Linked DNA regions of Homo sapiens: region 1 is linked to region 2. Evidence: fine-mapped expression QTL. A gene starts in region 2. The other region holds a variant in brackets. All regions are shown on one strand. Distances are from middle to middle. Region 1 overlaps OXR1 (oxidation resistance 1). Region 2 holds the start of OXR1 (oxidation resistance 1).

What was found.
Region 1: its variant is fine-mapped to the expression of OXR1 in whole blood (TOPMed, PIP above 0.99).

What each region holds. Positions count from the first base shown.
Region 1 is chr8:106,712,785-106,728,673 of GRCh38, reverse strand. OXR1 (oxidation resistance 1) reads right to left here. Exons shown (of 17, transcript NM_001198533.2): 11 at 14,689-14,851. Among named protein-coding and RNA genes, the nearest start is that of ABRA, 50 kb to the left of the region's middle. The variant C/T (reference allele first, on the strand shown) is at 7,959.
Region 2 is chr8:106,261,951-106,277,839 of GRCh38, reverse strand. It overlaps OXR1 (oxidation resistance 1), which reads right to left and starts at 7,650. Exons shown (of 17, transcript NM_001198533.2): 1 at 7,473-7,650. RefSeq lists silencers at 7,296-7,655, 7,676-7,925.

The DNA of each region.
Region 1 (15,889 bases), 450 kb before region 2:
TAAGTTATCAGAATAAACTATAAAACGGCCTTTAAAAAATAAAAGATAACAAAACTTAAGCATGCTTGATCAATATGGTTCTCATCGAAGCTAACTGGCAAAAGGTTAATTTCATGCCATGCATTTTGTTAGGAGTGTATGCTGCTTATTAGTTATTAATGTATTTGAGATGTAAATTAACTCACTTATAAAACAAAACAATCTGGTTAACACACAGGGTTACTGTAAGGTCATGTGATACTACATACATAGGCATTTGGAAAACTGTCAAGGTATCTATAGATACCTCAGTGATAATCTCTCTTACAGAGGTAGTAATAATATGGCCATATTATTTGTTGGGTAAAGACGAAGAATTCTAAAAAGCTACACATTATAAACTCCAAAAAGTCAAATTTCATTTGTTCTGAAATACTGGTTATTCTCTTAGAATTTTTTTTTTTTTTTTTTTTTTTTCCAGTTTAGAAGCATAAGAGCCCCTTGTCAGGCAAAATCTTACAGGGCTCTCAATCTACAAAGCAGGTAAAAGAACTGCTAATCCTTTTCATCCCAATTTTCTTAAGAGCTGCCTGCCCTACAGCTCCTAGAATCTCTGCTTTAAAACAAAGAAAACAACTAGAAAACTGGGACTTCAGCTTGTCTACACAACAAAACACATCATATTGTTCTATTTCAGAAAAACTTCAAAGTCATCCTGGTGAACTACAATATGTGCTAGGGTCAAGCTGTCTCTGTACTACATGACAACTTAGTTCAGTGACCACTCCATGCTTCAACTAGTCTTCAAAATGGGAAATAATTCTACTAAACTTTCAGGGTTACTGTGAGGGTTCAATTAAATAACATATATGTATGGGCAGAGCTAATGACCAATGAGTAGGAAGCATTCTTGCTCAGGCATGAAATAAAGTATCTGACAAAATTATATAGCCTCCCATAAGAATGAACAGAACTTGGCTGGGCGCAGTGGCCTGGAATCCTAACACTATGGGAGGCCAAGGCAGGTAGATCTCCTGAGCTGAGCTCAGGAGTTCAAGTCCAGCCTGGGCAACAAGGCGAAACCTAGTCTCTATAAAAAATACAAAAAAATTAGCGGGCTGTGGTGGTGCATGCTTGCAGTCCCAGCTACTTGCCGGGCTGAGGCAGGAAGATCACTTGAGCCCAGGAGCCCAGGTTGAAGTGAGCCAAAATCCCGCCACTGCATTCCAACCTGGGTGACAAAGTGAGACCCTGTCTCAAAAATAAAAATAAAAATAAAGAATGAACAGGCCTTGGACGTGGTGACTGTAATAAATGTAAGTGTTTGATGCACATTAATTAGATTGACCTATAAATTTCAGAATAACCACAATTTATTTTGCTTGTATTTGTAATAAACTGTATTGAAGTCTTTGCAAACTAAGAATAAATGATTATTCAAACTTCAAATAAAAAAAATGTATGAATAGCTTCATTGTTCTTGGTTTAAAAAAAAAACAACGGTGTTAACTGATTTATCTGGTAAATCTAATCACAAATTTTAAAAATTCAATCATTTCAGGTGCCTAAATCCCTCTGTGCTGATGTAACATATAAATGAATTTTGAAATTACAATTAAAAATAACACCTATTAAAATTTTAATATTTTGACACACTTAACATTTAAGGGCGGCAAGCTGCTTTGGGGGCATCTTCCAAAGTCCTTATTGGATTTTAAATCATCTACAATTAAGTGAAAATAAAATAAACATTCATAAGCAAAATATAATCCCAAATTACCACAGAAAGAGCAATGGACAATACATTTTATAACAATGTACACGTACAGAAAAATAAATAAAATTCTTACAATAGTATGGTTGACTGAATTTCCTTACTAGGATATCGTTTGAAGATTTGTATTAGGTAGCATTGCCTGAAAACTTTTTGAACAGCTTAAAAAACCTTTTAGTCAGATTCTTAAAATTATACCCTTAAGTAAACAATATCATAAAAGAATCTGGTTTGAGATCCAGTCAATAATAATTAATTTACTCTGTTCTATTCAATTTATTTTCAAGCAAGAGAAAATTCTGAATATTTTTCTAAAAAGTTAAGCTAAAATAAAAAACATTAAGGCAACAATTAAGATTTGATATCTTCCTGTTGGTGTAGAACATACAAAACACTTAATATGAAACAAAATTACAGTCCCTTATTAATTTCCCTTTTTGAAGATACTCAGAATTAACAGAAACAACTTCAAGGTACTTTGTACAATCATAAAATTTTGTATTCTATAAATATCCTCTATGCTTAAACTTTCAGAAATTGTATAATTTTTCATAATGTCACCATGAAAAGACTAGTATATATACAAATTAAAATAATTGACTAAGATTTACCAGAGTGTATTTATGATTAATTGGTTGATGTCTTCTCCCTTTTTTCCCATACCAGAGACGAGACATTTCCTTTCCAGGGCAAATTAAGTTACATAAAATCACGTAAGAACTGTTTTCAAAAGCATTCTTCCTCTGTCAAAGATAAATTTCCAGCACTAGAGCCTTACTACAGTGACAAAACAGTTTGCTAGAGACAAAGATTTGATTGACAAGAGAGAGAGCTAATCACTAAGTAGTATCCATAGCAATGATAGTCCTGAGTGGAGGCTGTAAAGCTGGGGAGGGAAGAGAGAATTTCCCATGCTTAAGTTTGGTTGCACTGTACCCAAATGTGCAAAGAAAGGGCTCAAAAGTTTAAAGACACAGAGCCTATATTTCCAAACATCAGTACATGAATATACTAAAAGTAACCCAGTAACAAAAAAGTAGTAAATATAATTTCCAGAGTCTCTTAAAGCACATGAATGATTTGAATGAACATTTTGTTATTTGTTCATATAGTCATAAAATTATGTTCCTTACTTACAGCTAACAGTACTATAAGATTGTATCTTTTATGTGAACATTTTTTAAGCAATAAGATGCCTTTTGTGGACTCTTCCACCCTAAAATTTTACAGAATGACTGTGTAAAAACCAAGCCAATATGCTACAAATAAATCCTACACAAATATTCAAAGTGACCTGAAAATCCCTCTGCCTGTTACACAGTCTGTTTTTAAATTGCATTTTCTAACATCTAATTTCTTGAAAAGGTAGTTATATTCACTATGCCTACATATACTTCACTAACCAGTGATATTTTGAATATAAGCAAAGAAGTGAATTTTTTAAAGATTAAATATAAACTACAAATACATATAAACTAAAACTATCTAGAATTCAGTTTTAATCAGAATATCAATATCATGATGATACATTTGAAAATTTCTTCCATTTTAAGGTAAAGCAGCTCCTTCCACTTCACTTTGTTGTATGCACACATGATGCCACCTTTTCACACACACACTACCTTTCTAACACGCAATACTGCATCCCAACCAAACCCCCACTCCCATCTCCTTCCTCCACATTCCAGCATGCACTCACACAGGGCACAGCACACCCCACAGTAACACCCTACCTCCCCCACATACCAACCATTTCCCCTATTCCTCTCATTCAGCCCCACTACATTTACCCTAAAATCTCTCCCACAGTCCCTCATAGGAACACCATCATTATCTTCACACCAGGAAAGTTCTCTTCTACATACAGTGCATTGTGGTCACACTCCACCCCTCCATCACAGACTCTCCTAACAACCATCAGCAATATTATATAATTTGGTGGTGGTGGTGGTGGAAGCAGCATTTTGAAAGCTTGTCATAACTTCCAGCTACATTTTCTAAAATAACAAATATGACGTGTGTTCCAAAATGAGGTTTAAATGAGATATTAAAAACAAAACCAAAAACCACCAAGCATGGCATAGTCTATTCTGTTGGTTGCCTATTCAATATCCACCCTTACAACTCCTTCCTGAAGTGGCCTTGATTTTGCTCAGGTATCCTTCCAGCCATGTGTTTCTGAGGAGGCTGGCTCTCATCTCTGGACAGAACTAGTCATTAGAGACCTAAATCAGTGGCTTTCAAGTTTTAGCCGGCATCAATATCACCTGGAGTATTTGTTATACCAGAATGCTGGGCTCCAAAAATGGTTTCTAATTAATCAGACTCAAATGGGGTCTGAGAATTTGCATTTCTAACAAATTCCCAGGTGCTGCTGCTGCTGATGGTCTGGGAACTACACTTCGAGAAACAACAGGTTTAAGCTATTCTGAGTGTGGTTTTCTGTTTCTCGAAGTCATCCAAATTTATAAATACAGTGTCAGGCAAACATAAAATGAGCTCAGTAAGTCTCCTTCTTGCCCTTTCTGTTTTTGTAGTATTTATAATACATATTGCTAAGTCATTTAAATTTGCCTAGATATCCAAGAATTTGAAGCAGATGTCAATTGTTATTATTATAACATGATGGGATATAAAACAAAGCACTTTTGAAAACACTACCAGTTTACAAGTTGAACATAATCTGTTCTCATAATTCAGATATTCAATTTAATAATCCTTTTCCTTTACTTTATTCGAACTGAAGTTATTAAATTACCTTATATCTCTTCCTATTTGAGTTGGGAATGGTATGATAGAAGCTATAATATATAATTTACCCTACTCACTATTTATTATTTTATGCCAGGTGAGGTGGCTGTAATCCCAGTGCTTTGGGAGGCTGAGGCAGGAGGATTACTTGAGCCTAGAAGATTGAGACCAGCGTGGGCAACACAGCAAGACTCTATCTCTAAAAAAAAAAAATTAGCTGGATGAGGTGGCACATACCTGTAGTCCCATCTACTGAGGAGGATGAGGCAGGAGGACCTCTTGAGCCCAGGAGTTCGAGGATGCAGTGAGCTGTGAGTGTGCCATTGCATTCCAGCCTGGGCAACACAGCAAGACCCTTTCTCAAAAAATAATAATAAATTTAAAAATAAAGTAATATTTTAGAATTTTAATATTTAAAATCATAAACTAGTCTGTCACCCATAAATCCTCTTCTGACAGTCTATATTAGAGGTTTTTTGTTTGTTTGTTTTTTGTTTTGAGATGGAGTATTGCTCTGTTGCCCAGGCTGGAGTACAATGACATGATCTCTGCTCACTGTAACCTCCGCCTCCTGGGTTCAAGTGATTATCCTGCCTCAGAGTCCTGAGTAGCTGGGATCACAGGTGTGCGCCACCACGCCCGGCTAATTTTTGTATTTTTTTTTTTTTTTTTGAGACAGAGGCTTGCTCTGTCGCCCAGGCTGGAGTGCAGTGGCACGATCTCGGCTCACTGCAAGGTTCGCCTCCTGGGTTCATGCCATTCTCCTGCCTCAGCCTCCTGAGTAGCTGGGACTACAGGCATCCACCACCACACCTGGCTATTGTATTTTATTTTATATTTTTAGTAGAGACGGGGTTTCACCGTGTTAGCGAGGATGGTCTCGATCTCCTGACCTCATGATCCACCTGCCTCGGCCTCCCAAAGTGCTGGGATTACACGCATGAGCCACCGCACCTGGCCTAATTTTTGTATTTTTAATAGAGATGGGATTTCACCATATTGGCCAGGCTGGTCTCGAACTCCTGACCTCAGGTAATCTGCTTGCCTTGACCTCCCAAAATGCTGGGATTACAGGTGTGAGCCACCACGCCTGGCCTAGATAAAGATTTTTAATGGAAATGTTATAGCTCATAACTTTGGGCTAGCAATTGAAGAATATTTTTAACAGGGAAAGCAAAACACTAGTTCAAAACTCTCCTAAGGTCGATAACAACTTTAAGATAACATAATCAGTAGTCAAAACAGACCATATTAGGCATAAAACCTGGGTGCCAAATGCTAATAAAAGAAAACATAAACAGTCTAAAAGTTTCATTTGTAACTATACAGGTTCTCAACATAGAAATATAGTCATATATCACATAATGACAGGGATATGTTCTGAGAAATGCATCTTTAAGCAATTTCGTTTTGTGAACATCACAGTGTGTACTTACACAAACCTAAATGGAATAGCCTACCATATAACCAGGTTATACGGTATGGCCTATTACTTCTAGGTCATACCATATAGCACGTTACTGTACTGAATACTATAGGTGACTGTAACACAGTGATAAGGATTTGTGTATCAAAATATATCTAAACATAGAGAGGGTAATGCATTGTACTATGATGTTATGACATCACTAAGAGACAGCTCCATTATAATCTCAGGGGACCAACCAAAATGTCATTATGTGCTGCATGACCGTATTATGAAAGTCAGTACCTATCAACTAATAAATTCTAATTAAGTGTTTAATCCTTCTGATTTCTTTTTTAGATTTATTAAATTTCTTCTGGAGTTATAATTTGTAATATTATTTGATTATTCGATCAGTATTAAAAAAAAAGAATACTTAAAAAAATTCCCTTTATCTGAGAAATGTGATTTCTCAATGTAGTGACTTTATACACAAAGAATTCCTTCACTTTTGGACAAAATTAATTCTATGTGGATTTTGCTGGCTAGACTGAGAAGAGATCATGAGGGTTTTGTGCGTTTAACATATTAACTCAGTTTTAATTTTGGTGTTACTTGTACCTTAATAATAATAGAAAACATATGTTTAATAAAATGATCACCAGAATACTCACTGCCTGTCAGCTTAGGAAATAAGATATTAACCAAACAAGGGAAGTCTCCTGATAAGGTGTTTCTTAAAAGTTGCAGCAATAACCACGGTTGTAGAAGTTTTCTGGGAAACCTAATGAATGATCCTGACCATAACTCTACTTAATGATAGCTGTGAAAACAGAACTGGCTCCACAAGGCAATCACCACATAGTAGTGAAAAACCAAATCCAACAATGACATAATGTGATAAATGTTATGGCCTACAATGCTAAGAACGGGTTACATATTTTACACTTATATAACTAAAAGGGACAGCACTAAATACTAAAGTCAAAATGGAAAGACTATAAATTATTTTAAAAACTAAGCTGAAAGGCAGATTCTAACATATTTTGAATAATAGTATAGAGGTTTATATAGTAAGTAGTTAACATATTTACATTTATACTTAAATAATCTAAACTTCAATTATTGAGAAAATGTGACTAATGTCATGTACCTAAAAAGATACAGGTTGTTTCAAAACCCCAAAACTGTACAGAATGTCTTTTTATCAGTATTTTGGCAAAGGTGAGAAGCAAGAGGGAAGCCAGAGCAATTTTATTCAAATACGAATCATTTTAAGAATGAAAAATACTGTTACACACCCTATCAACACATAATCTTAGTAAATTCGTTCTTAAAATTTAATCAAGTAAATGTGTGGGAGACTAAATAAATCAAGTAAAGTTGATTTAATAAAACCAGTTTCTTAGCTGTTTTTATTTATCATCCTAGGAGAACTGGATACTTTAATTAGGTTTGTAGTATGAAAGATACTGAAGTACATGTGGTATAAAATTAGAGATGAAAAATTTTGGAAAGCTTTCTCTGCCAGCTTTTATCCCAAAAGGACTGGAAAAGTCAATCCAAAGGAAAGGAACCAAAAAGCAATGTTAGCATAAAAAGCTCCACCTTTGAGGCCTGTGTGGTCAAGCAGCAAGACTGGCATACTGAACATGTGACACAATGAATCCTTGACTTTCAGAAAATTCTAGTATACAGCCTCTTGAAGTTGGTACTTGGGGTGGATGCTGATATTGTCCAGCATGTAATGTCTCATGATAAATGATGGCAGGATAAAAGCGATTCAACTTACAGTATTACCATTTTGACTTCATGATAAGAAATTCCAAATTCATCTTTATATTACAACAAATAAATTATAAAGCTGAATGAAAAGTTTTACATGAATCTGAGCTTATTGTGGTGGTCACTCCTTTAAGCTATACTACTGGATCCTCAGGCACTTGCCAAATATATTAAATTTTAAAGGGTATTTGATGGACAAAGTTGAAGAAGACAAAGTTCAAAGATCATTGACTTACAGCCTGGTATGTTTTTTGATCTTCCTCT[C/T]CTTGTAGTATCTCTGAGTACACAACATGATGGAAGTCCTGTGGTATGTAAGGGAGCTATGACAACATCAATTGTATCTGCATGGCTGTTACTGAGGAGAAAATATGTTTTCTTAAAAATCAAGGCACAAAATGATTAAACAAACCTTTTTCCATAGTGAACCAAATTTATGTTTTTGATGCAGCAGCCCAGATGAAAGGAATATGAAAAGTATTTCATATAACTTGCATGACAGGAACTCAAAAGCTGATCTATATTATAATCAATATAGTCTAAAGAGTCTTCCACAGTCTTAATATTGTATATGTTTAACACAACACCTGAAGTTGTGGCATGGTGGTATACTAGTTTTCGCACCTTGACTGCACAATGTAACTACCTAGGTAGCTTTAAACAACACTGATAACTAGGTCCTAGCCCCAATTATTCTGATTTAATTGGTCTGATTTGTGACCTTGGCAATGATATGTTTGAAAGCTCCCCATCATGATGCAAAGGTTCCGCCAAAGTTGAGTACTTGGTATGGTGGAAAAGGTATAGGCTCTGAATTAGAGATTAACCACTAAGAGAATTTTAGCCAAATAAAAAACCAGCTTAAAGAAATTATCTGGGCCAGACACGGTGGCTCACGCCTGTAATCCCAGCACTTTGGGAGGCCAAGGCAGGCGGATCATGAGGGCAGGAGATTGAGACCATCCTAGCTAACACGATGAAACTCCGTCTCTACTAAAAATACAAAAAAATTAGCCGGGCGTGGTGGCGGGCGCCTGTAGTCCCAGCTGCTCGGGAAGCTGAGGCAGGAGAATGGCGTGAATCCAGGAGGCGGAGCTTGCAGTGAGCCAAGATGACGCCACTGCACTCCAGCCTGAGCGACAGACGGAGACTCCATCTCAAAAAAAATAAAATAAATAAAAAAATACAAAGAAATTATCTGTAAAATAAAGATGATAATCTATACTTAAGTGTATTGCTCTAGATCTATCAATCATTCAAGTGGTAGAATAACATGTTAACAGACACTATGGGGATGCAAACAGCATATTCCAGACTGTGTGACATTCTACAGAAAAAAAATCTGATTTCTTAAAAACTGAAATAAAAAAGCAAAGCAAAGCAATGGAGGAGGAACCTACATTTAGAGAGACTTAAGAGATATTTTAACTAACTGCAGCATTTGAGAACTTAGTTGGATCATGACTCAAAAAACAAATTGTAAAAATACATACTGTACATATTACATGTATTCTAAATATTTTTATGACATTTGAATAACTATGAACAATTGGAGAAAAGGAGGGACACAGAAGAAATAAGCTGATGAAGCTGAATGGCACATGTGAATTTGTTTTACTATTAATCTTTTATTTTTGTATATTTATTGAACAAAAGTGCGATCATCACGAAATAGCAGATGTCAATAGGCATTCTGCCTCATCTTCACCTCAGGACTTGCCTGACAATTTGTTAAAATGCCATTAGAGCACTTCCCTTTTCAGTGAAAAGGCATAAAAAATCTGTATCAAAAAACAGAAAGTAATATTTATCACAGAACTGCAAAGCCCCACATCAAACAGTATCCTCACAACACTGGATATACTTATTGACTTCCTGTGTTGAATACCGGCAGAAATCAGGGGAAAGACTGTAATAAGTAGTTCCTTCTCAGTTATCAAATAAGGTTATCAGATCCCCAAAAGCAAGACTCATAATGCATATTTCTTTTATTTGGGTATCACACCAAAAACATAAGTTTGGTTCACTATGAAGAAAGGTTTCCTTAATCATTTTGTGCCTTGATTGTTTAAAAACATGCTTTCTTATCAATAGCAGCCATGTTGACGCAATTAATTCAGGCATAGCTCCTTTTTTTTTTTTTTGAGGTGGAGTCTCGCTCTGTCGCCCAGGCTGCAGTGCAGTGGCATGATCTTGGCTCACTGCACGCTCCACCTCCCAGGTTCACGCCATTCTCCTGCCTCAGCCTCCCGAGTAGCTACAACAAGAAGCGCCCGCCACCACGCCCGGCTAATTTTTTGTATTTTTAGTAGAGACGGGGTTTCACCATGTTAGCCAGGATGGTCTCGATCTCCTGACCTCGTGATCCACCTGTCTCGGCCTCCCAAAGTGCTGGGATTACAGGCGTGAGCCACCACGCCCGACCCACACCAAAGTACTCTTTATCATGTGGCATACAAAGTAACACTACAAAAAGAGGAAATTCAGTCCTTTACACATCGTGAGCAGTAAGAATAGTATTTCTCAGATCCTTTATCCAAATACTTAGGAACTGATTTATCATTAGGAACTTTTACTCCTGACCACCTTAAAATTTGGCTAAATTTTCTTTTTCTTAGTAAATATATGTTTCTGTCTGTCTTCAATAGGACTGGTCTTCAATGTTCATATTTGGAAATTAAAATTTTTAAAAATATTACGGAATTTTTCCTGCTATCCCAAGTGTACATTTTAGTAATTTGGGGTGCCATAGTTTATGAACTCTTTTAACATATTTTAGGGTACTGATATGAATAAGATCTGAATAGAGTTCATAAAGTTAAACAGTTGAAGTACTGGAAAAAATAATTCTGAAACAAGATTAAAAGGGAAGACAAACATTTTCACACTATCGCAGTAAATAGAAAATGTTTCTTGTTGTTATTGACTTGCATTGGAAGACAGAATAAAGATAAATGAATCCAATTTACAAAGATATGTTTCCTTAAGCTTATTGTAACAAATAACTTTCTAACAGAGCTGTCCTAAAATGTAAAGTATTGCCCTTTGAGGTAACAAATTCCCTTTCACTGAATATGTTTAAACAGAACAAAAAAAAATGTAAATGACAGACTGTGGACTATTAGTTAAAATGTCCAGAATCTATGGCTTTATGAAAATATTTACTACAACTGATGTAAGAACTTATTTCAGGAAATAGAGCAATCTTGAAAGATTAGAAGCTTTATACCTTAATTTTAATCTACGCCCAAGTTTATCCATTAATAAATATTGAGAATGAACTATATGCCTATACAATTCTTAGTTCTGAAGATATAATAGTGTATGAAATTGACAAATCCCTGCCTTATGACACTTACATAGGGAAAGGGAGAAAAAAGCAAACAATAAGTTTACCAAATTTATCATATACAAACTTCCCCAGTCAATGTATACATTTCTGGCTAGCAATATATTTCTGCTTGAGTAACAGTCAGGGATAATAAAGATCTTTTTTAAGTATCACTAAAGCAGAATAACAGTGAGTAGAGGTGTTAGTTTAAATCTAACTGATGCCCAAGTTGGTAGCCATAACAAGTTCATCCTAAATTCTAGGACACCTATTCTCCATTCCTTTGTAGAACAAAAAAATAAAAAACATCACGGCACATTCTGAAGTACTACTGTTTTATATAAGGGCTTTAGCCAAATTCTTCCTGTTTTAAAATAAATCATGTTAACATTTAAAATTACTCTTTCACTTAAATGAGTACTCATTAGTTTAACAAACATTTTTATTTTATTTATTTATTTTTTTTGAGATGGAGTCTCACTCTGTTGCCCAGGCTGGAGTGCAGTGGTGTGATCTTGGCTCACTGCAATCTCCGCCTCCCAGGTTCAAGTGATTCTCCTGCCTCAGCCTCCCGAGCAACTGGGACTACAGGCGTGTGCTACCACGTCCAGCTAATTTTTGTATTTTTAGTAGAGACAGGGTTTTACCATATTGGCCAGGCTGGTCTCAAACTCCTGACCTCGTGATCCACCCTAGTTTAACATTTTTTATTTGTTACCCTCGGCCTCCCTAGTTTAACAAACATTTTTTTAGGCACTTAGTATCCATGAGGCATAGACCTGCACTGCACAAGAGCAATATAATGTAAGATACATTACAATTGTAAATTTTCTAGACACCACATTAAAAAAGTGAAATTAATTGTATTAATATAGTTTATTTAACCTAATGTATTCAAAATATTATCACTTCAATATTAATCAGTATAAACAAACAAGATGTTTACATTCTTTTTTCTTTCCATTCTAAGTCATTAAAATCCAGTGTGTATTTTTTTTTTTTTTTTTTTTTTTTTTTTTTTGAGACGGAGTCTCGCTCTGTCGCCCAGGCCGGACTGCGGACTGCAGTGGCGCAATCTCGGCTCACTGCAAGCTCCGCTTCCCGGGTTCACGCCATTCTCCTGCCTCAGCCTCCCGAGTAGCTGGGACTACAGGCACCCACCACCGCGCCCGGCTAATTTTTTGTATTTTTAGTAGAGACGGGGTTTCACCTTGTTAGCCAGGATGGTCTCGATCTCCTGACCTCATGATCCACCCGCCTCGGCCTCCCAAAGTGCTGGGATTACAGGCGTGAGCCACCGCGCCCGGCCTCCAGTGTGTATTTTATACTACAGCTCATTTCAATTGAGATTGGCCACATTTTAAATGCTCAATGGTTACATGTGGCTAGTGGCTATAGGAAGTAGAATATTTTACACTACAGCACATCTCAATTCAGGCACTAAATTTTCATAGGAAATACTTGACCTTAATTAGATTTAGACTGATTTAGATCATATTTAGATTTCATGAAATTTACAGTTGAAAAAGTAGATCATATATCTAAGTTATTCCTAATATATTTAAAAATTGTCCAATAATGGAACCAAGTATCGGTTTTTAATTAATAATTAAAACTAAAAATGCAGTCCCTTAGTGGCATTACATGAATTTCAAGTACTCAATAGCCACATATGGCTAGTGCTGCTATACTGGATACTGCGGTAATATTTTCAGACAATGTAGCAAGGAGTTTCCAAAATTATTTTTTTCTCTTCCATTTTCTTTTGAACTGCACCAATTCCGGTCAAAGGACTGGTGAGGAGATTTATTTTTCCTTTAGAAATTATACCCTGCAGAGTCTTGCACAGAAACTGAGACAGTTCCTTTGAATCAAAATAGTCAATAGTCTCTTATTTCCAAAGTTAAGTACTCCAACCCCAATGGAGAGAAAGCTCTCAATTCCCGTTCATGACTGACAATTCTGCCATCCACCGTGCCACCCAAGCTGGAGATAACTTTATGGTTACCAGGTTGTCACTGAATCCTGTGTAATTAGCTAGCTAATACCTTTTCTTCTAGCTTTATTTCATCACCTTCCACTCTACCTTCAACTGTTGCTGCCTTAGTTAGGTACGTATCTTTGATCACCTGGGCTATTTTAAGTACCTTCTAAAGCTAATCTTAAAAACACAGCTCAGGGACATAGATGTATATAATATATATATATATAAGATACATATATATATTATATACGTATTATATATATTATATATATTTTACATATGTAATCACCCAAGTAACCACCACTGAGAGTAACATATAGAACATCCCCAGAACGCAATAAAGTTCCCTCCTGTCCCTGAGCCACCCTGTCACAGCCCAGTATCAAGTAGTGTGATGGATTTCTGACTAGTTTTGCCCTTTTGAACTTCGTGTAAATGAAATTACATAGTATATGTTCATTTGTGTCAGGCTTCTTTTACTCAACATATTATTTGTAAAATTCATCCATGTCATTGCCTGTACCAGTAGATCTTTTTTATTGTTATTTGGAATTCTGTAAGTATTCAAAAATGTATTCATCCATTCTCCTGCTAATGAGACTTTCCAATTTGGGGCCATTATGAATAAAGCTGGTATGAAGATTGATAATGTTGGTTTAAGTATTAAAATAACCCAAAATACATGGTCGATATGTTCTTCTTTCCCTCCCTTATATTGGAGTCACAGTAGAAACTGATGCTGTATATACTACACAGAATGACATTAGACACATTCCAAATCAGTTTGCATTTTAAACAAAAGACAAGCCATGTATACCTTCAATTACTATACATGTTAAGTGCATGCAAGATACATTCATATCACATTAACAGCCACAAACATTAACACCCAATGAATAAAAAAATTTGATTACATTTATTATAACATTTTAGCATCTGCTCTACATTTTCTAATGCATCAAGAAGAGACTAATCTAGGCAACACCAACAGATATTGCCACCCTACCAACCTTATAAGACAAAGCATGTAAAAGGTAATATGTAATCTTAAGATATATCTAAGAGGAGTTACAAAAAGTTTGTTAGTATAACTTTGACCATTTAAACAAGTTCAGTAAATCTGAGCATATAAAATTTCTACTACTTTATAAAATTAGCACCTGCTTATTTCCTTAAAATTATTATTGAAAAATTTAAGTCAAGATAATGCTTAGGTCTGAAACATAGAAAGGAGTAGTAATTTGTATAGATGCTATGCAAATACTATGCACAGATGTGTTAAATGACTGCCGTACCTCCTCCATGGAGGAGATGAAATTAAAACAAATCAGATGTGAAATCGATGTTTTATGAAAATTAATATAACAGCAAAATTAAAATTATTTCCTTCTTTGCCATAATGTTAATCTTTCCTAAACTAAATATTCTATAAGACACTCAATAAAAGTCATTTTATTGCTAGTGGGTTTTCTAGTATTTTAAAGCAAAAGCAGAATGACAAATATAGTATTAAAGTCACTATTCAGATTCATTCAATAACCACAAATAAACACGGATAGTGAACCTGACCTTTAAAAAAATTCCTCTTTTGTGGAAACATCACTTATACTTTGTACTACCATAAAGCTATAAATTCATACAAACTAAAAAGATGACTAAAATCTTCATATTTTTCTCCTTACCTCCCATTCTCTGGCTGCTGCTTGATTACTAGAATCCTCAATTGTTTCAGACTCCTCAATCTTTTTTACTACTATAAATCCAGGTTCTCTGGTATATTCGCCAGTATCTTCTGCATATATTTCTGGACTCCACTGAATGAAGAAGGCATACAAGTGATCTGTCCTGTTAGGAGAAGTGACTATTAATATACCTAGTATTCTGTGCTGCCAGAATTAAAAAATTATATTTGTAAAATATCTTGATAAATCTTGAAGACTTAAAATATACACAAAATATATTGTTTTATATTAATATAAAAGGTCTACTATCAGGAAGGCATTAACTTAAACATTTTATTTGGCTATATTCTGTCAGGTTGTTCTTTAGAAAACCAAATTAAGATTTTCCTTGGCATGTGTTTGACTAGTTCAGATGTTGTATATTATAAAGCTTTTCTTCTTTAAAGACACTAGTGATGGAAAAGGAAATTAGATACACAACTTTGACCTCATTCCTACAATAATCTAATGATCTAAAATACAAGTAAACAATTTATTAATGGCCTATTTTGAGACATTATATACAATTTTCCAAGTTAATAGAAATGTAATGTCCTTAAATTTTAAATGATACTAGGAACATACAGTGTTGAGAGACAGATGATCTAATCTTAGAAATCTCAGGTTCCCCTTTTCAATGTTTTGTTTACTACACTAAAGCCAGTTGTTACATTCCCTGATAAATGTATTTGAGAGTCACACACACATTTCAAATATCTACGTTTTATTGGTTTTAATTAACATGTTTTTGAAAATTGATTATATAACTTTCAGCTAACATATACCAGTTAATAACCATGGTTCTAGAAATTATATTTTCAATATAATGATTTTTAAAATTGCCATTCTTTACGTGGCAGCTAACATATTTAAAAGGTGCTACATTTTATCTTTCAATGTAACATCTTACCTTTTTATCAATTTCTCACTATCTATGCAGCAGTTTTCCTAAGTTTTATGTCTACAATAAAGATCAGAATCCTAATAATACTAATTTGTAATGAATATTAACCAAGATAAAAGAATGAATATTAAAATAGGGAATTCCATGTAAACATTAAAACCAAGAATAATGAGAAAAACTAAATTTTTATGTCCATTTTAACTAAATATAGTTACATTTCTCATTGTAGTGATTTCAACATCACTGGAACGTTTGAAT
Region 2 (15,889 bases):
CTAGGAACAGCAGCTTCCTCTTTCATCTGTAAAAGGTACAGGAAGAGACTGTCCTCTTCACTAGGTTTGAACCTGGGAACATGAAGCTCTGAAAGCTTCTGGCAGCCATCTTAGAACCCTGAAGAGTAAGCCTGTCAAGGACATAGCCAAGATTAAGGAAGAGGAGCTAAGAAATTGCAATGGAAACTGCAGTGCAACTGGTCACATGGGTGTGAGCCCTGAATCAGGTCCTGCTTAGAGTCACATAGAGCTCCCGGCTCCACTTACACAGTCATGAATCATGTCTCTCTTTTTTTTCCTCAAGAAACTTGAGATCAGGCTTTATGATTCTTGAGAGTAAAACAGTTGGAACTAATTCAAGCATAAATGATCACTTGCAAGGGCACAGCTGAAGTGTGGTGGAATTAGCAGAGTACAAGGACAAAGAGGGTGCCAGACATCATGCTAGCATCTTTACTTGCTTATGTCACCGAATCATCACAGGAATCATAACCTATAATCCGGTGGATATGATTCTTAAAAAGTAGTAAGGTAGAAAGTAATTTGCCCAATTTTTTTGTAGCTAATAACTGAGGAACAGAGATTTGAATACAAACTTGGGTGGTGCTAAAGAGAATGTTCTTTCAAAGTTTCCATCTGTTCTGGTTTCCAATTTTAACTCTTTCATTATTCCAATTGATCATATGCATATCAGTCACCATAAATTACAAATAAGAATACATACATTATTTATTTTACAATGAACAACATACAACAGGTTTTCAGATTTTTATTGAATCTGAAATGCTTCAATAAACCATAATGGCAACAACACTAAACTGGTATAAAAACATCTATAAACTTAATAACAGAATTATCAGCAAGGGCCAATCTTCAATTTTCTGATCATCAAAAAATACATCCTAGTTGAAAGACATTATGCATATGGTTTTGTTTGGTTTTAGAAATCTTTACCTAAAGCTCTACTTATTTTCATCCCAATTAGGAAAAAATAAAAAGGCGTTTAATCTTTTTGACAATTTAGGTGAATACCTGAATTGAACATAATTAGAGACCCATCAGTTACCTTTTTTTTTTTTTTTTTTTGCCTCTAACAGAATCTAACAGCTGAAAGGAGAAGCTCTTGAGCTAAATATCGGTTCTTGAGCATTTTTAAATAAACAGAAGAAACATGGATTTAACCAAGAAAATAAGCATGCTCTTGAGAAAGAGGTTTGGATGGAGATTTTGAAAACTGTAAACTAAGCTGAAATGATGCAGAGTGACTACTGACCTCAGGCAAATCACTTCATAATTATCTTCATTTTAAAGATGAAGAAATAAAAGTTCCATAAAGTTAAGCTCATCTAAAGTCACAAACTACTAAGCAGGAGTGCCAGATTTGACTGCAAAGCTCTTGATCTTCCCTAAATGTCTGTGCCTCTTTCCTTGTAAATGGGTGGTTAGTATTCTGGCTCATCAGTCAGTCTTTTCCAAACACATCAGTTGATTGTCAAACCTGGTCAAAACACTGTTGTTCAAATCAAAATTGCAAAAACCAGGCTTCATGATCCAGAAGGCTGAGTTCAGTGTTTTGGTCAGTGGGGTCCCAGACCAAGGTCAAGCAACATGCATGTAATTCTGTAAAACAGACTACAGCCTGCACCTATTACTGTGCCCCCAATGACAAACAGCATGTCTCTTTCACCTTCTTTAGGAGGATAGAGACAATTCTGAATGACAAAATCAGAAGGAACCACATCAGCCATCTGAGCCCAGGATTCAGATTCCAAACGGCATCACATAATGAATAATCCAGAGATAGAAGAGATACACTATTTATAAAGAAGACTGAAAGCCTGGGGAAATGTTCCAGGCTATTTTTTTTCTTAAGATGAATAAGCATTTGTAAACAAAAGTAAAACCTTCCACAAACAAGGTTGCCTTTTTCCTGCATTGCTATTACTTATCTTTAACAATTATAAGATAAAATGAAATTTTAAAAAAAGATATTCTCTTTGCCTTTGCTACAGCATAAATTTCAAAATCTTGCTCTGTGTGTGTGTGTGTGTTTGTTGTTGCTCCTGAATTCAACAAGAACAACATAAGGTGTTTGATAAAATTCTCACATGACCCTCCTTCCAGCTGGCACAATAATTGACATGCCAGAGTAAGCAGCAAGTTTGTTTTTAGGTAAATGGAGCTGCCATCTTATCAATATTTCCTTTTCCCCCAAATAAATATGGTTTCTCCAAACAAGTATACTTTAAAGCATAGGTATTCCCTAGTACCCAAAATAACAAAAATGCTCAGTTCTGTAGTCTTTATATTAATCCCCCCAAAATAGTGACACAGAATGTTCAGTCTTTGAAAGTGTGTGGTTAGAGCCTTTGCTGCAAACACCATTAGAACAAAACTGATTTGAAATTCTGCTTCCTCTAACTACCAGTGCCAGCCAGCCCATTGTCTTCTACCACTGTGGCTATCAGAAGTGCAAAAGGGCACACATCCATTCAACAAGTATCTGCAGGGAAGGAAACCACCTCTCCTTGCTCAGATGTCAAACAAAATCAATAATCATTTGCTAAGGAAAGGAAAAGGGAGACAAGAACTGACCCCTTTCACCTCAAATTTCTCATTTCTTCCTTGTCTAGGCTGTACAGAAATCCATGTAACTGTTTTCCCTTTAATGATTTCTTCTGCCTTCTGCATCTCACCAATTATGTTCTGAAGTCTTTTCAACAATCGGGAAATATCTCTATAATTGCTCCAAATTCAATGAAAATGAATGCCCATCTTATGTTTCTTTGTACAGATACTTTTAGAGATATATCTGGGTATTGCAAGTGCAAGAGTCCCAGTGTCTAGAACAGAACCTGCTACTGCTGAGTTTACAAATGCTTATTGAATTTACAAATATGATTATCACTGGTTCAAACCATATTTATTGGGTTTTCACGTAGTCCAATGACAGGTGCATTCTATCAGTACCAGTGTTGCTTACACTGAAGTCATCTTTTCCTCAGGTCTTTCACTATTCCCTTGGGAAAGAGGAAGCCTCTCTAATAGCAAGAATATGCAATTGAACAAACCAATTCAGTAAATATAGAAGCAGAGAAACTGAGGTTGCCTTTGTGAAAAACAAAGGCTCTCCCCACTGCCTTTTTCCAAGACAGGTACAAATCCCCATTCCACCTAGAAGCAGAAAAGAGCTGTTTGTGTTTGTATGCACAGGAGAAAGGGCGGGGTCGGGGGGGGGGTGGCGTTGCTGGGTGCCCCAGAGTCTTAGCAGGAGTATCAAGTCTGCTGCGACACAAATCCCTGAGGGACAGTAATAGGTAAGGGTGATTGGAATAGTTATTAGAACAAGAAAGGAAGTAAGCAACCCTAATGATGATACCTTCAGAATGAATTCTGAAACAAACCAATAACAAAAATGGGTGGAATGGTGAGACAGAAGAGGGGGTAGATACAACGACCAAATTTTAGTTTCACTAGGCTTCATTGTGCTAATGACAAGGCTTTTACCTAATAAGTGCTCTGAGCTCCTGCATGCAGGGGATATTAGAACAGTATCTTATTACATTTATGAGTGTAAGGTATTGTTCCTCCTTTCTAGGCAACGTATTGTGCTACGGAATCGAAAGGCTTGATGCTTCTCAATACGCTCCATGCTGTCGATTTCAAATGGAAATTAAATACAATACGAGAAAATTATACGACATTCTTACCTTTCTATGTAGATACCTATAAATACTAAGATTTCATTTTGGAATATTTTGGGGTGTTTCAAATAAATATTTGTCTAACATTTTTCTCTGATTGTTCAATCCCTCACTTGATAAAGAACTTACAAGTTGTAATTTTAATTAAATTCATTTGAATTAAAAATTAAGATTATCGCTTTTAAAAAGCAATTACCAAACAAGTTCAGTGAAATTAGTACAGCAGAATAGTTCTGATTTGGTTTTATCAAACAATGTTTACTTAGCTCACATGCACATATGCATATGATTCACCTTTTAGAAATTCTCAATATGTCTTAAGATTTTTTGTTTGTTTGTTTTTTAAAGGCTGAAAAACAGTTCTGCCAAAAGGAAGCCTCTTTAATTTCCTTAAAACAAGTGTTTTTGAATATGGACCATTTTGCAAAGAAAGTCTCTTATTAACTACTCTTGATTTTCAAGATGGACTTCCAATAGGAATATTTGAAAGTATCCTAAAAGGGGTTGCTTTTAATGTTAAGCACATCTTATTGAAAGCCAAGTTTCTCAAATTAAGCATTACTGACATTTGGGCTGGATAATTGCAGAAGGCTGTCCAGTTTATTGTAGAATGTTCACAGCATCCCTGGCCTGGCCCACAAGACACCAGCAGCACCTCTCCCCCAAAGTTGTGACAACCAAAAATGTCTCCAGACATTGTCAGTATCCCCTAGGGGGTAAAACTGCCCCCAGTGGAGAATCACTGCTCTAAGCCTATCAACAAGATCTATCCCTAAAGTGAGAGAAAGTGATTTCTCTTCTTCCACTTTGACTGACATCTCTATTTCTCATTCTGCCTCCTCAAGCCATTTCACCACCTTTACTTTCTTCTTCTTCTTCTTTTTTTTTTTTCTTTGTAATGACTTTATCTTAGGGCAACAAAAATTCCATTGACTATTTTCTAAAGCTTCCCAGGATTTAGGGAACAATCCTCCAGAAAAAAAGTGTCCAGTTAGGCTTCCACTTAAGGACCAGGAACCAGCCCAAGGGTACAATCCTTTGTATTTCAAATGCAGGAGATCGGGAGTAAAAGATTCTCTCATCTCACATTAAATTTAGCATTCTATAATGAAGCCTTTTCCTGCACACACTCAAAAGATCTACCCGGACCTAATCTCTGCTTTTATATGATACCCTAATCAATTTGGCCGACTTTCCCTCTTCCGTGACCCCCAAACAAAACAATACAGGCAAACATATCAGATGATGTTTTATTTGAACAGCATTCTGTGCAGAACAGAATGGCTAAAATGATCATTTATTTTACCTTCACATGATTTATAATAATGACTGAAAAAAATCATAGCCATAAAAGCCAATAATGACAGCAGAAGTCTTTTTATTCAAATCTCCCACCTTACAGATGTCCAGAATAATCAACATATTTCAAAGGGTATATTTCAAAAACGTACTAGCAACTCAGCCAGCCACTGTCACATGGAATAAGAAGACATGCCCTGGCCATTAGAACCATGCTGTCCTCGCTCTTGTGTCCCTCCACGGGACAGACATCACCTTGCAAGACAACTCGTGCCACTGTCCCCAACAGTTTTCCACAGAGTTCTTGTTTCCCTTCATCTGAATCTTCTCTGTGCAATTTGATGTCCTGAACTATTTCTGACGGTTGCACACAAGATCTCAGGGACTGGACCTTTTAGTTATGAGACCAGCCCTCTTAGACAGCAGACAGTAGGTACAGTGCTTGCTCTCCCTTCTTTGCATCCTTCCAGAGTTGCCTTCATCCTCATTTCCTGCATCTGGTAAAGTCTCTCTGAAAATGTGAAACCGACGACAGAACATGGCAAGCTGGATGGAGAAGCCGACAACCCCTCCCCCACTCTCACCCAACGCCGGGCCGGTCCTGTTTCGGATCCTGCACACTGTGGAAGCTTCTTGCTTCCTTGTTTTGGTGGGTGAAATCTTTGCTGTTCAAAAAGGTGTTTTTGCACAGAAATTTTAGGACGTGTTTATTCTAGTAACGTAGTGTTTTCTTTTTTCGCTATATTTACATGTGGAGAACTCCAGGGAGGCCCCCACCAGAGATCCCTTAAATGCTGGTCTCTGTCCCTGCTTCTCGGCCCCGCTGGCCTTTTGGAGCCATCGTGCTTCCCAGTCCGCAGGCAACAATCACAGCATCACCTGCAAGGGGCAGCAAAGTGAACCGCGGACCCCTGGAGTGACGCCTTGGAGATGGACCCTTTGGATTTGGGAACCCCTCTGACGGCCGGGACTCCCAGGATTCCCTTCCATAGAGGGAGTCCACGGTGGTCGCAGCCGGCGGCTGAGTCCTCCTTAGAGTGCCGAATCAGAGAAGACCCGCATCAGGTTTGGGATGTAAGTGGAGAGGGAGAGGTTAGAAAGAGGCATCATTGGATAAGCAAAGAATGCTACCCTGGGAAAAGGAGGCAGAAAAGACGTAGGGAAGTATGTTCCCCTTAATCCCTTCCCCGTGCCGCCCGTAGATCCCTGGATCTTCTTGTCACGGAGACAGGCTGCAGCCACACACGCGACCCCGGGCCGGAAACATGCACACGCGCGCGCACACACGCACACACACGCCCCGCTGCGAGTTGCACGCTGCAGACTTCTGCCTGACTTCCCGGCCAAAAACACCGCACCTCTGGGGCCAGACCACGAATTCCTGTGGCCTAGAACTGACACCACTCCCCCTACCCCCGCAATACACACATTCAGACCCTACACTGCACCCTGAGCGTGCCGGGAACCACTGAACGGAAGCCCGAGCAGCTCCCCCCGTAAACGACTACCTTCCCCACTGCCTAATGTCTATTTAAATCTCCTAAAGCTCGCCTACAGCGAGCCGAGGTGCGTCCAAGCCGGGTAGTAGACGGAGGAGGAGCCAGGGGTGAAAGTGAACCTCAGATAACAGTACTAAATCACTATTCAAGGGGCGGCACGGGGAAGCCTCCAACCCTCTCCTGAACCTTTCAGGCCCTACCAGCAGCCCAGTTCCTCCGCCCGATACTGCACAGCTCCCCCCCTCTTCACCCAAATCCCTCAGCGATTTTCCAGTCGGCCCTCCAGGCCACTTTCTACATCCATCCTTTCCCCAGCCAGTTCCCAACATGTGGCCTCGGGTACTCTAGCGGGAGACAGATTCCAGGCTGACTCCATCATGATGTGCCCCCTAGCCTTTTACTGATTCCCCAAATTATCCGAATCCACTCGCCCCTCCGGAGCCCACTGTCCCTTCCACCGGCGTCCTTTGCTCTCGTCCAAATCCGCTTTCCACGCGCCCCACTTTCCACCCATCCTCCTGCCGTTCTGTTCAAGACACGCTTGCCCTCCACTCTGCGCCCCCAACACTGCTCTCACGCTGCTCCCACTCTATCCCCCGGCGACACCCCCACTTTCCTTCTGCGGCTGTCCCTGGCCGGGCTCCCGCGCCCCAAACCCAGCCTCCCCGCCCGGTCTCCTCCCTCGCCGCCCGGTCTCCTCCCTCGCCGCGCGGTCTTTCCTTCTTCCCAAGTCCGCCCTCTGGGCCCCCGCTGGAGCTAGTTCTGCCCTCCTGCTCTGCCCGTCGTCCCCGCTCGAGCATCCCAATGGCCACCCGCTTTCAAATTGGCTAAGTGGCTCGGAGAGGCGCCAGGCACAGGGGGCAGAGGCCAGCCGGCTCTCCCGGGCGCCAGCCGCGCCTCTCGCTATCCCTCCTGGACTCCCCCGGGCGCCAAGCCCTCGCCCTAACGCCCAGCAGCCTCACAAACTTACTTGCGGGTCGCCAGGAGGGGGCTGCGGTGAGCGGCGGCGGGCCCCGCGGCGGCGAGTGCGCCCCTCTCGGCGGGGCTGGGCGGCGCGGCGCCGGCGCTGAGCTCCTGTGGCCGCGAGGTGAATGGGCTCAGCCTGACGCAGCCCAGCTCTAGCCCCGCTGCTGCCGGCGCCGCTGAGCGCTTGCAGACATGCTCAGTTTCCGGACCTGCCCGCGTGGAAGCTACCAAGAGCCGGCAGCGGCGGGGGAGACTGAGAGGAGCCGTGGGGCGCCGCGAGCCGGAGGCTACCACGCCGGGGGCGGGGGGAGGCACGCACCGCTAAAAATAGCTCCTGCGGAAGCCACGCTGGCTTAGCGCGCACCCCTCCCCGCGCGCGGCCCCTCTGGCTGGGGTTCGGGTTTCTGCTCTGGCTACCGCGGTGGGGACCCCAGCTCGCCGAGTCCTGCCAGGCGTCTGCCTGCACTAGGATCCCCATCCCGGTGGAGACGGCGCCTCCAGTTCAGGCGCCCACTCGAATAGCCTGGACTAAGCCAGAGCTGCCCCGATTTCGGGGTCCCGCCTGTCGGGCAGCTCTAATACTAGGCTCTCCCTAGAGAAGCAGAGGAAAGTTTTGTTAAAGCGATAAAAAAGCTTCTGCAAGGAAAGCTGCAAGGAAATTTGTTCAGATTTACGGAGGAAAAAAATGTTCTTCAGATGCTTTGGTTGCTGGGAAAAACAAGGAGGAAAGGAAGGCGAAGTCTGACAGCCTAGAAAGGGACCCAAGGCAGCTTGGAGCGGGCTGAAGGGGGTTCTGCAAAGAGCTTCTAAAATTCAGAATTCTTTGCAAGGCGTTTGTGACTCCTCATTCCGCAGTGTTTTGCATAATTCGTTGACACCCCACCCTGACCTTGGAGATTTTCTTGTTCCTGTCACCTGAACTGTAATTTACTTTCTCCGCATGCTGCCTTCACTCCTTCCCCCTCCAACCCGGTTTTAAATTGCAAAACGAAAAGGGCGCAAACTCTGGATGGGTAGATTCCCAGACCTGAACTGGAACCTGGCTGTTCTGTAACCCTGAGGAAAGGAGCTGGTCCTGTTGCCGAGTTCGGGATGTATCCCAGATCTCCTGTGCATCCAGCAAACACTTCAAGCGTAGGAGCCTTTCAGCCACCTCACCTGCAAATTAGCTATTTCCCGCTATTAGTGTTCACTCTATTCTACCTTAATTTCTGATCATTTATTATTATTTTTTAATTCTGTTCTTTAAAGTAAGAGGTACAGATATTTCCTGGGTCAAATTTCCGTCTTGTTTCACTCACCTCTCACAGCCACCCAATGAGAGAATCATTATTATTCCCATTTGACAGACAGGGATGTTGAAATTTAGCGACAGGAGCTCATCGCTTGTCTGGAATAATAGAGTGTTGAACCTAGGGTCGGCCAGACTAGAAACTTTCATGGTTTCCGCATAACCTATTTCCCCGAGTCAATAGCTTTACCTGAGATAAGGGATCAAGAAAATTAGATACTATTCTGAGTGGCGTGGCGTGTCAACAGTAAGCCGATTGATAAGCCGATTGCGGGTTTTGTTCTCCATTATTTTTACCTAATTTCTTTACGAGCATTCGCAGCTTAAATTTTCTGTTATGTTGAAACTGATAGCGTTTAATTTTTATTCTATCAGAAAGATTTTACTGAGAATCTTCTACAAGCAATGTATAGACTAGGTATGTATTTTATAATTATCTCAGTTCAGACTCTGTGATAAAGCTACTTTGTTTTCCCAGTATTATAAATTAGTTAGACTTTGCTAACCCTACTAAGTAATGTACATGTGATTTTTTCATAGAACTGTAGTGGAATCTGTCTATTTGGGTCAAGATGTCCTCCCTCCTAAGATATTTGCGCCCTTCCATCCCCACTTGCAATTTAGTGCCATGTGCACCCCAAAATAAGTAATCAATTAAGGTTTGATCTTTTACTTTTTTACTGAAGCTGCAAATATTATCTGCAGGACCAGGGCCACTTTATAATGACAACATCATGTTTCTAATTTTCCATAGGTGATTCATTGGGAGATCAAAATGTGAATTTCCTTAGACTATCAACACAAATCATTCCTTTCTATCAGTGGTGAAGGAAGGTGAAAAATAAACTTTACTTTCATCCTGGTTGCTTTCATTCTTCCTCTTTCAGTAATTATTCTTAAGGTGGTATGGCACTCTGAACATCTTCATGCTACAGCATGCACACTACCCATAATCATGAAACAGGGAAAATCTTGATTTCAAAGTCTCTTTGGTGTCCTATGGAAAAGTGTAGCTCAAAAACGTACTGCATTGAGGACTCGAAGTAACAAGTGACAGGGATGCAATTCTAACTTAGGCAGAGAAAATGCATTGACCCGTGTAACTCAGAAGTACTAGAAATAGCAGGGCTTGTCCTGGGCTTAACAACATTAGGAAGAATATGATTTTCTCTTTCTCTAACTTGCTTTCGGCATTGCTTCCTGTGTTGGTTTCATTCCCCTCACATTATGTCCATAGTGCCAGCCCTACACAGTTGACAAATTTTGTAACCTTACAAAGAAATCAAGTCTCTTGTTCTGTTGAGCAGATCAATCTTTGAAGGTGTACTCTTATTGGCTGTCCTGGCTCACACAATCAACCACCTGCATCCTCTTGGGGATGAAAGATTCTCAAAAGGGAAAAAAGTATTTGGTTAGCAAAAGAAGGAATAGGGGATGTTTGCAAGATGGAAATAATGGATAACCAGTAAACTCATAGACTGGCCTGTTTCCCCATGGACAAAAAAAGGACAGCAAGTGTGTTGGGAGGTCCGTTGGTTTCAGTTATTCAGAAATGAGCAAGATAATAATAATGCTTTGAAGTGAACTTTTCCCATCTCTTTTTAGGCTCAGTTGCTTTGATTTGCCTGCCTAAGGGTAACAGAGAGTCCCCTCTTTGTTGCCTTTTCATCTTTATTTCAGGGCCCTGGTTATTTCCAAGGTGGTGCCACTCATTAAAGACAGCTAATGAGCCACCCAGCCAACTGACGCTTTCAGTCCCCAATCTGTCTCTGCAGGAAAAGGATGTTTTCCATATTATTAAAGCCCATTTTTTTTGTTTTGATCTAATGTACTTGATCATTATGTAAACCATTTGATAATAAAAAGTGGGGGTTTTCCCATTGTGCCTCAAAACATGAACAGATGGGGGAAATGCTGCTGTCCTTATAGTTTTGTATTATTTCTTATGCTAGAATTATTTGAATAATTGGCTGTCTTTTTTCCCTTTACTTATCTTATGCAATTTGTTTGTTACCTCCTTTAATATTTGTTATTCTAGGAATAAATCAATGCAATCCATGAGTCATCTCATTTAAACTGCATTCTATAGTTACGTTAAACTTATCAAATCCAGGATCTTTTCCTTGAACTTCTTCTCATGACTTTGTACATTGTCTTCTAGGAACTCCTCCCTTAGCTCTGTCACACCACAGCAAACATATTTTTTTTTTTTTCTCTGAAACGGAGTCTCACTCTGTTGCCCAGGCTGAAGTGCAGTGGCACTATCTCAGCTCACTGCAACCTCTGCCTCCAGGATTCCAATAATTCTCCTGTCTCAGCCTCCCACATACCACATCTTAACCTACACCTCAGATTATTCTTCTTTTCTTCTCCTAGTTCTCATCTCTGTAGTTCTTTGTCCCTCTCTACACCACACTGCCTTTTTGTTTTAGTTATCTACATACTTGCTTCTCCTCCCCCACTAAACGGCAAGTTTCTGGAGGATTGGGGCAATGGCAAATTTATATTTGTGTGTATTTTATCTTCGTCAGTGCTCAAATAGGTGCTTGCTGATGCATTGAGGGATTATAGGACAGGAAGTGAATATTTAAGTCTGAAACGGGGAATGCATGAGGTGGGCACTAAGTCATCTGCTTTCAGGGAGTCAAGGAAACATGGAGAGAGCTGATGCTGGAGGTAGGCTGACATGCAATATACACTACTTCTTTCACCATTTTGTGTAGGGATACCTCTGTATAGTCCGTTCTTTTCTCCTTTACTTTGTCTTACTTTGAATTCCTTCACTGAGATCTATGCTACACTGCCAAGCATCTGGTATACTTCCAGGTATTGGCACTGACCACTGAGCATATTCTCCTTCCATTGCACAGAGGCAAACCATTTTAGATACTTGGACACTAGCCTGTCTTTCTGTTGCACTTCTTTCATACCAAATTTGCTTTTAGAAAATCAGAACCAAGGTAGAAATGTGAAACAATTTGTAAATGAGTTTTTTAAGGGAAAAGGAAATACCAAGACAGTTTCATTAAAGGGCTATTAAAAGTTTGTCTTCTTGATAGCTATTTTCCCGTTGTGAAAAAAATTAAATTTGGAGAACTAAATAGTAGTAGTTCAAAGTCACTTATGCCCCAATTATTTTTTCATTTCATGACTATAGATAAATGTCACAACAGATTCATTAATGATATATACTAAAGATATAAATGCACATTTCTACCCTCTCTCTGCACTTTCAGGCTGAAACAATTCTAGATAATAGTCATGGGACATTAAGGATCACACAGTATTTGTGAATCAAAGATGCTTCTTGACTAAAAGACTTAGCTCTGATGGCCCTTTCCTCAGGAAAGAAGAATGTGGATAATTATGTACTTCAAATATCAGGATGCTCTTTTCTTGCCTCTGAATCTAACACAAACGTGGCTTAGTTCTTGCAGAAGCAGCAAGATCCTGATAAAGCTACAACTCGTTTCACTTCTCTTTGAGTCCAATGCTACAATAACAAGTATGTTTAATGTGTGATCTCAGATTCTCAAATATAACTAAGAAATCTATGACCATTAGTTTATTTCCACAATGTTTTTATTATAACGGATTCAAAATACTACTGTGCATCAACTAATATTAATAATAATATTCAACATTTATTGGTACTTCTATGTGTCTCTTTCTGTGGTAGGCACTCCTTTGCATACTACTTATTTAATTCTCATAGCAATCCAATGAGGTATATAGTATTTTAGCCTATTTTTGGTTGGACATATAGAAATTCAACCTAGACTGGTGAAGGTGAAAAGGGAAATTTTCTGGCACAATAGTAGAGTGAAATATAAGACAGGGAGCTTCTCTGAGCCTCAGGAGGTGGAAATGCCATCACAATTCTGTCCATATCTCATCAGCAGGTTTATTTTCCCACCTTGCAGACAGGCTTTTTCCACAGCCTGTATAGTCCTTGGATCCCTTCATTAAATAAGGACAGGATCTGTTCAATTGGCTTTGGTTTAGAAGTTTCCAAAGAACTCGGTGGCTTGCTTCCAAAGAATATAGAAAAGGAAGAATAGCAACTTTACAGTGGAAAAGGCTGGCCGAAACTATCTTAACCAAGTGATGAAGGCTTAACATCACCAGTGATGTCATGTGACTATCATTTACTGTCTAATATTATGTAATGACAAAGGCACCTCATCTCTGTGGATTTCTTTCCAAAAACCTACAACTCCAGTTGAATCATGAGAAAATATCAGATAAACCCAAATTGAGAGACATTCTACAAAATACCTGACCAGTACTCCTTAAAACTGTCAAAGTCATAAAAAACAAAAACTAAGCAACTATTATACAACAAAAGAGACCAAAAAGACACAACAGCTAAATCCACTGTGGTATCTTGAATTGTATCCTGGAACAGAAAGAGGGCATTAATGAAAACAATTGGTGAAATATGGAGTTCAATTAATAGTAATGTAACAATGTTAATGTTAATAGTAATTAACCAATGTTAATGTTTTGACAAATGTAAGATGTTAACCATGGGGCAAATTGGGTGAAGGATTACAGGAACTCTCTGTATTATTATTACAACTTTTCTAAAAACATAAAACTATTCTAAAATTTAAAAATGTATATTTTAAAAATACAGAGAAAAAGAAATCCCTGGGGAAAAACATGATCCAAGAAGCTTGGGTTAGGTGCCCATCCAAGACAGATTAACTGAATAGCAGGCAAGTGCATCCAGCAGGAAAATGTCCCCTGGGGTCCAGACTTGGTATTCCAGCCATTCCCAGGGAATGAGAGTGGACAAGAGGGATGGAAGAATATAGCTGTGAAGCAGGCAGGACTGCAGCTGGTAAGTAACATAGATGAAAAAGCTGAAGGTCAAAGAACTAAGTGTACTGTATTTCATCAATCTAAGATAATCCACATGTTAACCTTCATGAAATTGGGATGTATCTTTTCTTTCTTGGTGATTTGTCAGCAATGTTGTAGATTTGACAAAATGTGGTAATTTTCTTAACCGTAGTAAATTATAAGACCCAGGATTCCAACACAGGTTCTTAGTTTAACTGTCGTTCTTTTCAGGCTTTCCTCGATATTGACCACACTGTCATGTAAAACAAATGCTGATTATGTAGACAAAACTGCAAGAACAAAAGTAGAATTGAAACCATGAAAAATTTGACCTAAGAATTTATTAATCTAATAAAGTCATCAAGACACTATACACATCTAGAGACACCAAATTAGATAGAATTCTGTGAAATTAGGATAGTCGAGGACCAAGACGTAGGCTATTTGACATGTAATATACAAGATAAGTTATAACACTCCATTTTAGAAATTTTAAGTTGACATTTCAGTTCAAGTAGCTAGAAAGAAGCTAGATATATTTTTAAAATAACTTTTCTTAGCCCTGCACCTCATTAGTTTAATAAGATACCAATGAAACCAGGTAACATGGCATTTGTGTTTCATTCCTTTAATACACAATAACATACTATTAGGAAAACAACTGAAGACAATGAGGCAGAGCCTCTACCAATTCCACTTTTTAATTCATTATCATTTATTGTACACCTGTTATTAGCCATATACCCTAGTGGTATATATTTTTAAAAAGATAGATACACTTGGTTCCTGCTTTCATGAAACTTGTGTTTCATCATAAAAGAAAGAGGTTTCAGAGTGTAATTACAAGTGAGGTAAGAATTTCAAAACTGTAGAAGTTTTGGGAGCATATAGCCAGGGAATTTAATCTAGTCCAGAAGGACAGAAATGGCCTAAGGAAGTGATACTTAAGCTGATACTTTTAATAAAATAAGTACAGACATTTATTGAGCACTTGCTGTGTGCCAGGCACTAACTTCAGTGCTTTACCCAACCTGACAGATACAGTCCAGATGGCTAGCTCATTATATGTTCAGACCTCTTTCTAGAGGTTTTATTGTAGGCATAAGTTGAATGGCTAAAAGCCCACCTTTCTCAAACATCCTTGTAGCTGGATCCCCAGGTATAATTTAGGTTCTACCAGTTACAAGTTTTTGGCTAGCACACTATCCCAAAACTCCGCTGACCTTTACATGCCTGCAGAAACACTTTTTTCTGATTGCTTTACCTATAGCTACCTCATCTGAGGTAGTTGCCTTGAAAGATTGTGTGTATTTTCCATTCATTCACTTCTACCAATTTTCTTGGCCTCTAAGTCTATAGCATGAGTAAAATTTCAGCAGCCCGAGGAGGTTGGGGAGCAGGGGGAAATTACAAAGTCAACCCAAAGGAAATTCTGCATGCTTACAGAATAGCAATATTTATCTGTTTTTAAATTGTATTTGCATGAAGCATGAGAATATGGAATATGTGTATGTGAATGGATTCGAGTTTGCTAAACCAAGGAAGAAAGAGGAGCATAATTTATTAATGTGGGGTCACTCATCAGAGAGTCTGTCTTTAATATACTAGCAGTTGGAAAAAGTTCTAGCAATTTGTTCACTTGGTTAACTTAATCCTGATCTTAATGTAAATGTAAAATATGCAGTGAACTGTGATAAATGAAGATGTTAAAAATTCCTAGCTGTGATATAACAGGGATCTGAGAAGGTGTGGAGATGGGGATGTTGGAGTGGCATTATCCAGGACGACTGGCTCAACAACTCCCTGTTGGTTTCTGGGAAGGCCCAAAAGACCCTGCTTTCACCAAAACACCAAGTACTGCATTGGCTTCCCTCTTTTGCCAAGAATAAAGGTGGGAGATACTGATGTTTAAGTGGTTTCTAAGATTTGATGTAAATGAAAGACTATTAGGGCGGAGGAGGCCAAGGGAGCAATTTAATCACCAGAATCAAGGTGGATGTGATTGTCATGATATCATTATAAATTATCATTATATCATTATCAATCTATTTTATTTATTTGATAGGCCTCTAATGGTTATCATAAAGGTGTGACTCACCTATAAAATATCATAGGGTCCTTAGGATGGAAAAACCTGAGTGTTACTCTGAGGTCCTGCTTAATCTATATAACTGAGATAGCTTTAGTTTTGGTGAACATACACCTGACTTAAACCATCAAAACAGAGAATCATGACTCTTCATCTAAATTCCAGACCTGGATTAGAATGGCAAAGAGGGGGC